Linked DNA regions of Homo sapiens. The protein of the gene in region 2 binds, or shares a complex with, the protein of the main gene of each other region. Each region holds a gene or a part of one and is shown on either strand. Other genes may lie near its edges.

Region 1 (3,922 bases), on a different chromosome or scaffold from region 2:
GATTGCTTGAGGCTAGAAGTTCCAGACCAGCCTGGGCAATATAGCAAGACACTACCTCTACAGAAAATTAGCTGAGTATGGTGGTATGTGCCTGTAGTTCCGGCTTCTTGGAAGGCTGAGGCAGGAGAATTACTTGGACCCAGGAGTTTGAGACTGCAGTGAGCTATGGTTGCAGTACCACTGTAACTCCAGCCTGGGCAACAGAACAAGACCTTGTCTCGAAAATAAAATAAAACAATAAAAAATAAACTAAAAACAATTTAAATAGAAATGGAATGGTCTAATATGGAAAGAACATGGGCTCTGGAGCCCAAATGCCTGGGTTTCAGTCATATCCCCATCAGTTATTAGCACCGTGACCTTGGTGAATACCCTAACTCTTTGCCTCAGTTTCCTCATTTCCTCATCTGTAAAGTGGTGATGATAATAGTGTCTACCTCTTAGGGTTGTTCTAAGGATGGAGTGATTACTAGGCACTCAGCACAGTGCCTGACCTGTGGTAGGTTCTCAGTTAAGCATCTGCTGCTGATCTTATAGGAGGACGGAGATGAGATTCAGATAGAATGTGACCTCTAGGCATGATTTGCTAGGGGTGGGAGCAGCATCTTTCTGTCACCATTGTGTGAACAGCAGGGTCAGATGTTCCTAGTGATATCACGGGAAGCCTTGTTTCTAGGATGTAGGAGTCTCCTGTCCATCTGATTCCTTTGGCCTCTATCCCACGAGACCTCTGAGCTACACTTTTACTCATTTTCTCTAACCTAAGGGTGGGCAAAACCTCTTACTGCAAGGGAGTTAACCACAGAACATTCTCTCATATAGTCAAGTTTTACCTCATAGCTTAGGCCACATTTTAAAAAATATTTTAGTTAATTAATTATTTTTGAGATAGTGTCACACTCTCACCCAGGCTGGAGTGCAGTGGCACAATCATGGTTCACTGCAACCTTGAACTCCTGGTGTCAAGCAGTCCTCTCACCTCAACCTCCCAACTGGCCAAGAGTATAGGCGCACACCACCACACGTGGCTAATTCTTGTGCTTTTTGTAGAAATGGGGTTTTGCCATGTTGCCCAGGCTTGTCTTGAACTCCTGGGCTCAAACGATCGGCCCACCTTGGCCTCCCAAACTGCTGGGATTACAGGCATGAGCCACTGTGCCTGGCCTATTTTTATTTTTTAATACAGACAGGGTCTCACTCTGACACCCCAGCTGAAGTAAGGTGGTGCCATCATAGCTCACTGCAGCTTCAAACTCCTGAGCTTAAGCAGTCCTGCCTCAGCCTCCCAACTAGCTGAGACCACAGGCATGCACCACCACTCCTGGCTAATTTTTAAATTTTTTTTCGTAGAGATGGGGGTCTCGCCATATTGCCCAGGCTGGTCTGGAACTCCTAGCCTCAAGTGATCCTCTCACCCCAGCCTACCAAAGTGCTGGGATTATAGTCATGAGCCATCATGCCCAACCCAAGGCCACTTTTTGTAGTTGTGTTTTTGTTGTTGTTGTTGTCATAATTATTTTTGAGGGAGGGAGTGGAGAGGGGGTGGAGTTGGATAGATCAGAGTGAAGATTGTTAAATGCCTGTCAGCTCCCTAAAGTTCTTGGTAAATCCTTATGTTTGTGCATAGTTGAAAATTTCTAGGGGGATTTAATTCATGGCTTTTATCATATTCTCAAAGGACCCACAAAAGGCTAAATAAAAACCACTGATAGGGGAAAGTGGTATTCAGGTACCATTTAGCTCTTCAGCAACTCTTAAGACATTTGTTTTCCAAATTTCAAACATATAGAAAAATTGGAAGAATAATTCAGTGCTCACCCAAATTCTCACTATCTAGTATTTTTGTTTTGTTTTGTTTTTAGAGATGGGATTTACTCTTTGTTGCCCAGGCTGGACTTGAACTGCTAGGCTCAAGTGATCCTCCTGCCTCAGCCTCTGGAGTAGCTGAGACTACAGATGTGCGCTGCACCTGGCTGATTCATTTTTAAATTTTTGTAGAGATGGGATTTATTGTTATGTTGCCCAGTCTGGCCTTGAACTCTTGGGGTCAAGTGATCCTCTGGCCTCGGCCTCCCAAAGTGCTGGAAGTACAGGTGTGAACCACTGCACCCAGTGTGTTACCTAGTTTTGTTTGTTTGTTTTGTTTTTTTAAGATGGAGTCTTGCTGTGTGGCCAAGGCTGGAGTGCAGTGTTGTAATCTCAGCTCACTGCAACCTCCCCCTCCTGAGTTCAAGCGATTCTCCTGTCTCAGCCTCCTGAGAAGTTGGGATTACAGGTGCCCACCACCATGCCTGGCTAATTTTTGTGTTTTTAGTAGAGATGGGGTTTCACCATGTTGGTCAGGCTGGTCTCGAACTCCTGACCTCAAGTGATCCACCTGCCTTGGCCTCCCAAAGTGTTGGGATTACAGGCATAAGCCACTGTGCCCGGCTACCTAGTTTTGATGGATGTATTTCACCTTATTTGTTTTCTCTCCAGATAGATAGATAGATAGAGAGAGATCCCACAAGCCCTTTGAAAGTAAGTTTTGGACATCACTTTTCCCGGACACATCTCAGCATGTGTTTCCTAAGAGTGAGGACATTCTACACAATCACAATGTTATTATCATACCTAAGAAAATCTACAATAATTTTCCCCTATCTTTTATGACTTTTCCTTTTTTTTGCAGACTCAGATCCAGCTGGGGTTCTCATATTGCATTTAGTTGTGTTCTGTCCCTTTAATCACTTATTTATTTGTTTATTTATTATTATTATTATTATTTTTGGAAACAGACTGGAGTGTGCACACAGCTCACCACAGCCTCAACCTCCCAGGCTGATTCTCCCACCTCTCCCTCTTGAGTAGCTGGGACTACAGGCGTGGGCTACCATACCCAGCTAATTTTTTTTTTTTTTTTTAATTTGTAGAGATAGGGTCTCATGTTGCCCAGGCTGCTCTGGAACTCCTGGGCTCAACAGTCCTCTGACCTCAGCCACCCAAAGTGCTGGGATTACAGACTTGAGCCACCATATCCAACCTGTTTAATCATTTTTAATCTAGAATAGTCCACTGCTCAACCCCCTCCTTTTACATGACATTAATTTTTTGAAGAGAGTGGGTTCATTGTTGCCCCATTTTCTGAATTTTTCTGAGTGTTTCCTTTTCGTGTTCATCTGTCCTCTGCATTTCCTGTAAAAGCAATCATTTGCTGAGTATACAACACATCTGATAAGGCCCCTACCATTCCTTAATGCTTATTGTTTGAGGCTGGGGTCACTGGCATGACCCTGCCGTCGGCACACAGTATGTTGGAGGCATGTTTGGAATGTGAGCGGAAGAGCAGCTAATGTTCAAGGCAGTGACATTTCGGCTGAGTCTTAGTAGAGAAAGTAGGGACAATGTAGATAGGCATTGATACCTGAGAGCAGCAATTCCCAAGTACTATTGGCTGGTTGTCCCTGGGAGGTGCCAGAGGAAAATCCTTGAAGGTTGTGGGGAGCAGGTTGTTTATTTTTGTAGAGACGGGTCTTGCTCTTTTGCCCAGGCTGATCTCTAATTCCTGACCTGAAGTGATCCTCCCACCTTGGCCACCCAAAGTGTTGGGATTACACGCTTGAGCCACCTCACCCGGCCAGGAACAGGTTGTGCAGGGTCATAAACTCTGTGCCAAAATTAGATTTGGTCCTAGAGGCTTTGGGAAGCTACTGCACACATTCTTTTTAGATTATATATCATTTCCTATCATCTCACTGTCCTGAGATAAGCATGTTTTGGTCTATCTTCTCCCTAAGGGTGTGTGTGTGTTTCAGAAGGATTTAAAGCTGGAAGTGACCTCAGAGTTGTGCTAGAAATAACAATTCTGGCCACTTGGTAAGGGACGGATTTGAAGGGGTGGGTTGTCCAGGACAGAGGTGGCATGGGGAGAGAGAAAAGAGCT
Region 2 (3,922 bases):
TGGGAAGCCACGGTCGGAGGATAACTTGAGATCAGGAGTTCAAGACCAGCCTGAGCAACACAGTGAGACCCCATCTGTAAAAAATATACACATTTTTAAATTAGCCGGGCATGCTGGCGCACACTTGTGGTCCCAGCTACTCAGAAGGCTGAGGTGAGAGGATTGCCTGAGGGCAGGAATTCAAGGCTGCAGTGAGCTATGACTGCACCATTGCACTCCGGCTAGGGTGAAAGAGCAAGACCCTGTCTCTTAGAAAAAAAAGAAACTTAGTTGCACTATAAAAACCAGACTAAGGAAGAACTAAAAAACAATCCAACGTCTTTGTTTTGACTTCCAGTTTCCTAGTCTTCGTTTTAAAGAAAATAACACCCAGACGTGGTGGCTCACGCCTATCATCCCAGCACTTTGGGAGGCTGAGACAGGCGGATAACCTGAGGCCAGGCGTTTAAGACTAGCCTGGCCAACATGGTGAAACCCCATCTCTACCAAAAATACAAAAATTAGGCCGGGCCTGGTGGCTCAGGCCTGTAATCCCAGCACTTTGGGAGGCTGAGGCGGGTGGATCACAAGGCCAGGAGTTCGAGACCAGCCTAGCCAATATGGTGAAACCCCGTTTCTACTAAAAATACAAAAATTAGCTGGGCATGGTGGTGGGCACCTGTAGTCCCAGCTACTCGGGAGGCTGAGGCAGGAGAATCGCTTGAACCTGGGAGGCAGAAGTTGCAGTGAGCCGAGATCATGCCACTGCACTCCAGCCTGGACAAGAGAGTGAGACTCCGTCTCAGAAACAAACAAACAAACAAAAAATTAGCCAGGCATGGTGGGGGGTGCCTGTAATCCCAGCTCCTCAGGAGGCTGAGGCAGAAGAAGTGCTTGAACCCGGGAAGTGGAGGTTGCAGTGAGCTGACATGGCGCCACTGCACTCCAGCCTGGGCAACAACAGTGAAACTCCATCTCAAAAAAGAAATAATAATAAAATAAAATACCATCTCTTGTTGTAATGAAATATCAATTCATGCAGAACTCTCAAGTTGCTTTTAGCTTGCTCATATGTTGGTCTTTCTGGGGCCAAGTACATGACTCATGCCTATAATCCCAACATTTTGGTAGGCTGAAGCAGGAGGATCACTTGAACCCCGGAATTCGAGACCAGCCTGGGCAACATAGGAAGATTCTGTCTCTACAAATAACTGAAAAATTAGCCAGCATGGTGGCATGCACCTATGGTCCCACTTGGAGGCTGAAGTGGGAGAAATGCTTGAGCCTCGGGGGTTGAGGCTGCAATGAGCTCTGATTGTGCCACTGCACTTCAGCCTGGGAGACAGAATGAGACTTTGTCTCAAAAATAAAAAGAAAAGAAAAGAAAAGAAATGTCTGTCTTATAGCTAATTTGTATCTAGAAAAAAACTTTCTAGGTTCCTTACTTCTGTTTCTGGCTATGGGTCCCATTCAGTCTAAGAATCAACTAACATCTTATTATGAAATAAATGAACTTTTTGCAGAAGATAACGTGACCAAAATTGAAAGAAAATTTTGCTAATATTACTGTATACCTGAGATAACTTAATTACAGATATTTTTAAATCCCATTAGCGGCAAAAATGGAAAATCAACAAACCTGGGTTCTGTTCAAAATCATCAAGGAGTTTGTCCAAGTCACTGACAGCTGCTTTAAAATAACTGTCCATCCTACCTGCAGACTTATTCAGAATTTAATTCTTGTATGCCTAAAAAATAGAAAGTATAATAATATTTCATTTAATTACATAACAAATTTTATGCCATGTATTCCATGCCAGGAAACACAGTCAAGAAATTGACACAGAAATAAAATTTAAGAGTGCTGCTTTAAGGAATATACAATTTAGTTGGGGAAACTGCCCCTGTATATGTAAAAATGACATGAAAACCAACTCTAACAACATAATATTTGCATATATAAACTATTGTAAATTTTTAAACACTTACCTAAATAACTCATGGGTCAAAGAAGAATTCATAATGGAAAGCTAAAACTACTTATAAATACAACATATCAAACTACAAACGCATAAAAATAATGCACATAAAAACTCTGGGATTCAGGAAAAGTGGTACTTCAAGAGATACTTAGAGCCTTAAATGCTTTTTTTTTTCTTTTTTTAGTGGAAGACAATTATATTCTAACAAATGAAACTATTTTTCAGCAGGGTTTACATGTCATCTCTTTCTATAAACTTCTCTGGAGTTTTTTTTATATACTTTTTATATTATACCTTAAGTTCTAGGGTACATGTGCATAACGTGCAGGTTTGTTAACGTATGTATACATGTCCCATGTTGGTGTGCTGCACCCATTAACTCATCATTTACATTAGGTATATCTCCTAATGCTATCCCTCCCACATCTCCCCACACCACGACAGGCCCTGGTGTGTGATGTTCCCCTTCCTGTGTCCAGGTGTTCTCATTGTTCAATTCCCAACTACGAGTGAGAATATGCGGTGTTTGGTTTTTCGTCCTTGCGATAGTTGGCTGAGAATGATGGTTTCCAGCTTCATCCATGTCCCTACAAATGACATGAACTCATCCTCTTTTATGGCTGCATAGTATTCCATGGTGTATATGTGCCACATTTTCTTAATCCAGTCTATCATTGATGGACATTTGGGTTGGTTCCAAGTCTTTGCTATTGTGAGTAGTGCCGCAATAAACATATGTGTGCATGTGTCTTTATAGCAGCATGATTTATAGTCCTTTGGGTATATACCCAGTAATGGGATGGCTGGGTCAAATGGTATTTCTAGTTCTAGATCCCTAAGGAATCGCCACACTGACGTCCACAATGGTTGAACTAGTTTACAATCCCACCAAGTGTAAAAGCATTCCTGTTTTTCCACATCCTCTCCAGCACCTGTTTCCTGACTTTTTAAGGATCGCCATTCTAACTGGTGTGAGACGGTATCTCATTGTGGTTTTGATCTGCATTTCTCTGATGGCCAGTGATGATGAGCATTTTTTCATGTGTTTTTTGGCTGCATATATGTCTTCTTTTGAGAAGTGTCTGTTCATATCCTTCGCCCACTTGTTGATGGGGTTGTTGGTTTGTTTTTTTCTTGTAAATTTGTTTGAGTTTTTTTGTAGATTCTGGGTATCTGCCCTTTGTCAGACGAGTAGATTGCAAAAATTTTCTCCCATTCTGTAGGTTGCCTGTTCACTCTGATGGTAGTTTCTTTTGCTGTGCAGATGCTCTTTAGTTTAATCTGATCCCATTTGTCAATTTTGGCTTTTGTTGCCATTGCTTTTGGTGCTTCAGACATGAAGTCCTTGCCCATGCCTATGTCCTGAATGGTATTGCCTAGGTTTTCTTCTAGGGTTTTTATAGTTTTAGGTCTAACATTTAAGTCTTTAACCCATCTTGAATTAATTTTCATATAAGGTGTAAGGAAGGGATTCCAGTTTCAGCTTTCTACATATGGCTAGCCAGTTTTCCCAGCACCATTTGTTAAATAGGGAATCCTTTCCCCATTTCTTGTTTTTGTCAGGTTTGTCAAAGATCAGATGGTTGTAGATGTGTGGTATTATTTCTGAGGGCTCTGTTCTGTTCCATTTGTCTATATCTCTGTTTTGGTACCAGTACCATGCTGTTTTGGTTACTGTAGCCTTGTAGTATAGTTTGAAGTCAGGTAGCGTGATGCCTCCAGCTTTGTTTTTTTGGCTTAGGATCGACTTGGCAATGCGGGCCCTTTTTTGGTTCCATATGAACTTTAAAGTAGTTTTTGCCAATTCTGTGAAGAAAGTCATTGGTAGCTTGATGTGGATGGCACTGAATCTATAAATTACCTTGGGCAGTATGGCCATTTTCACGATATTGATTCTCCCTATCCATGAGCATGGAATGTTCTTCCATTTGTTTGTATCCTCTTTTATTTCATTGAGCAGT

The links.
Region 1: the proteins of ZFYVE16 (region 2) and PTPN23 are in contact, whole or in part, in a crystal structure (PDB 5MK0), measured with the Homo sapiens proteins. Residues at the interface, in NP_001098721.2 of Homo sapiens: Asp2, Tyr4, Phe5, Ala8, Val9, Leu12, Asp13, Leu15, Leu16, Asp17, Phe19, Glu20, Gln21; in NP_056281.1 of Homo sapiens: Phe62, His125, Glu137, Glu138, Lys141, Val142, Cys144, Thr145, His146, Gln148, Cys149, Leu189, Lys192, Ser193, Asp196, Arg198, Lys199, Phe201, Leu202, Arg205, Ile206, Ala336, Leu338, Leu342, Asp348, Ala350, Val351.

The regions. Positions count from the first base shown.
Region 1 is NC_000003.12:47,391,021-47,394,942, forward strand, and holds part of PTPN23 (tyrosine-protein phosphatase non-receptor type 23), read left to right. Parts: intron 1-3,922. UniProt on the Homo sapiens protein: Plays a role in sorting of endocytic ubiquitinated cargos into multivesicular bodies (MVBs) via its interaction with the ESCRT-I complex (endosomal sorting complex required for transport I), and possibly also other ESCRT complexes.
Region 2 is NC_000005.10:80,431,914-80,435,835, reverse strand, and holds part of ZFYVE16 (zinc finger FYVE domain-containing protein 16), read right to left. Parts: intron 1,728-3,922; 5' UTR 1,689-1,727; coding exon 1,619-1,688; intron 1-1,618.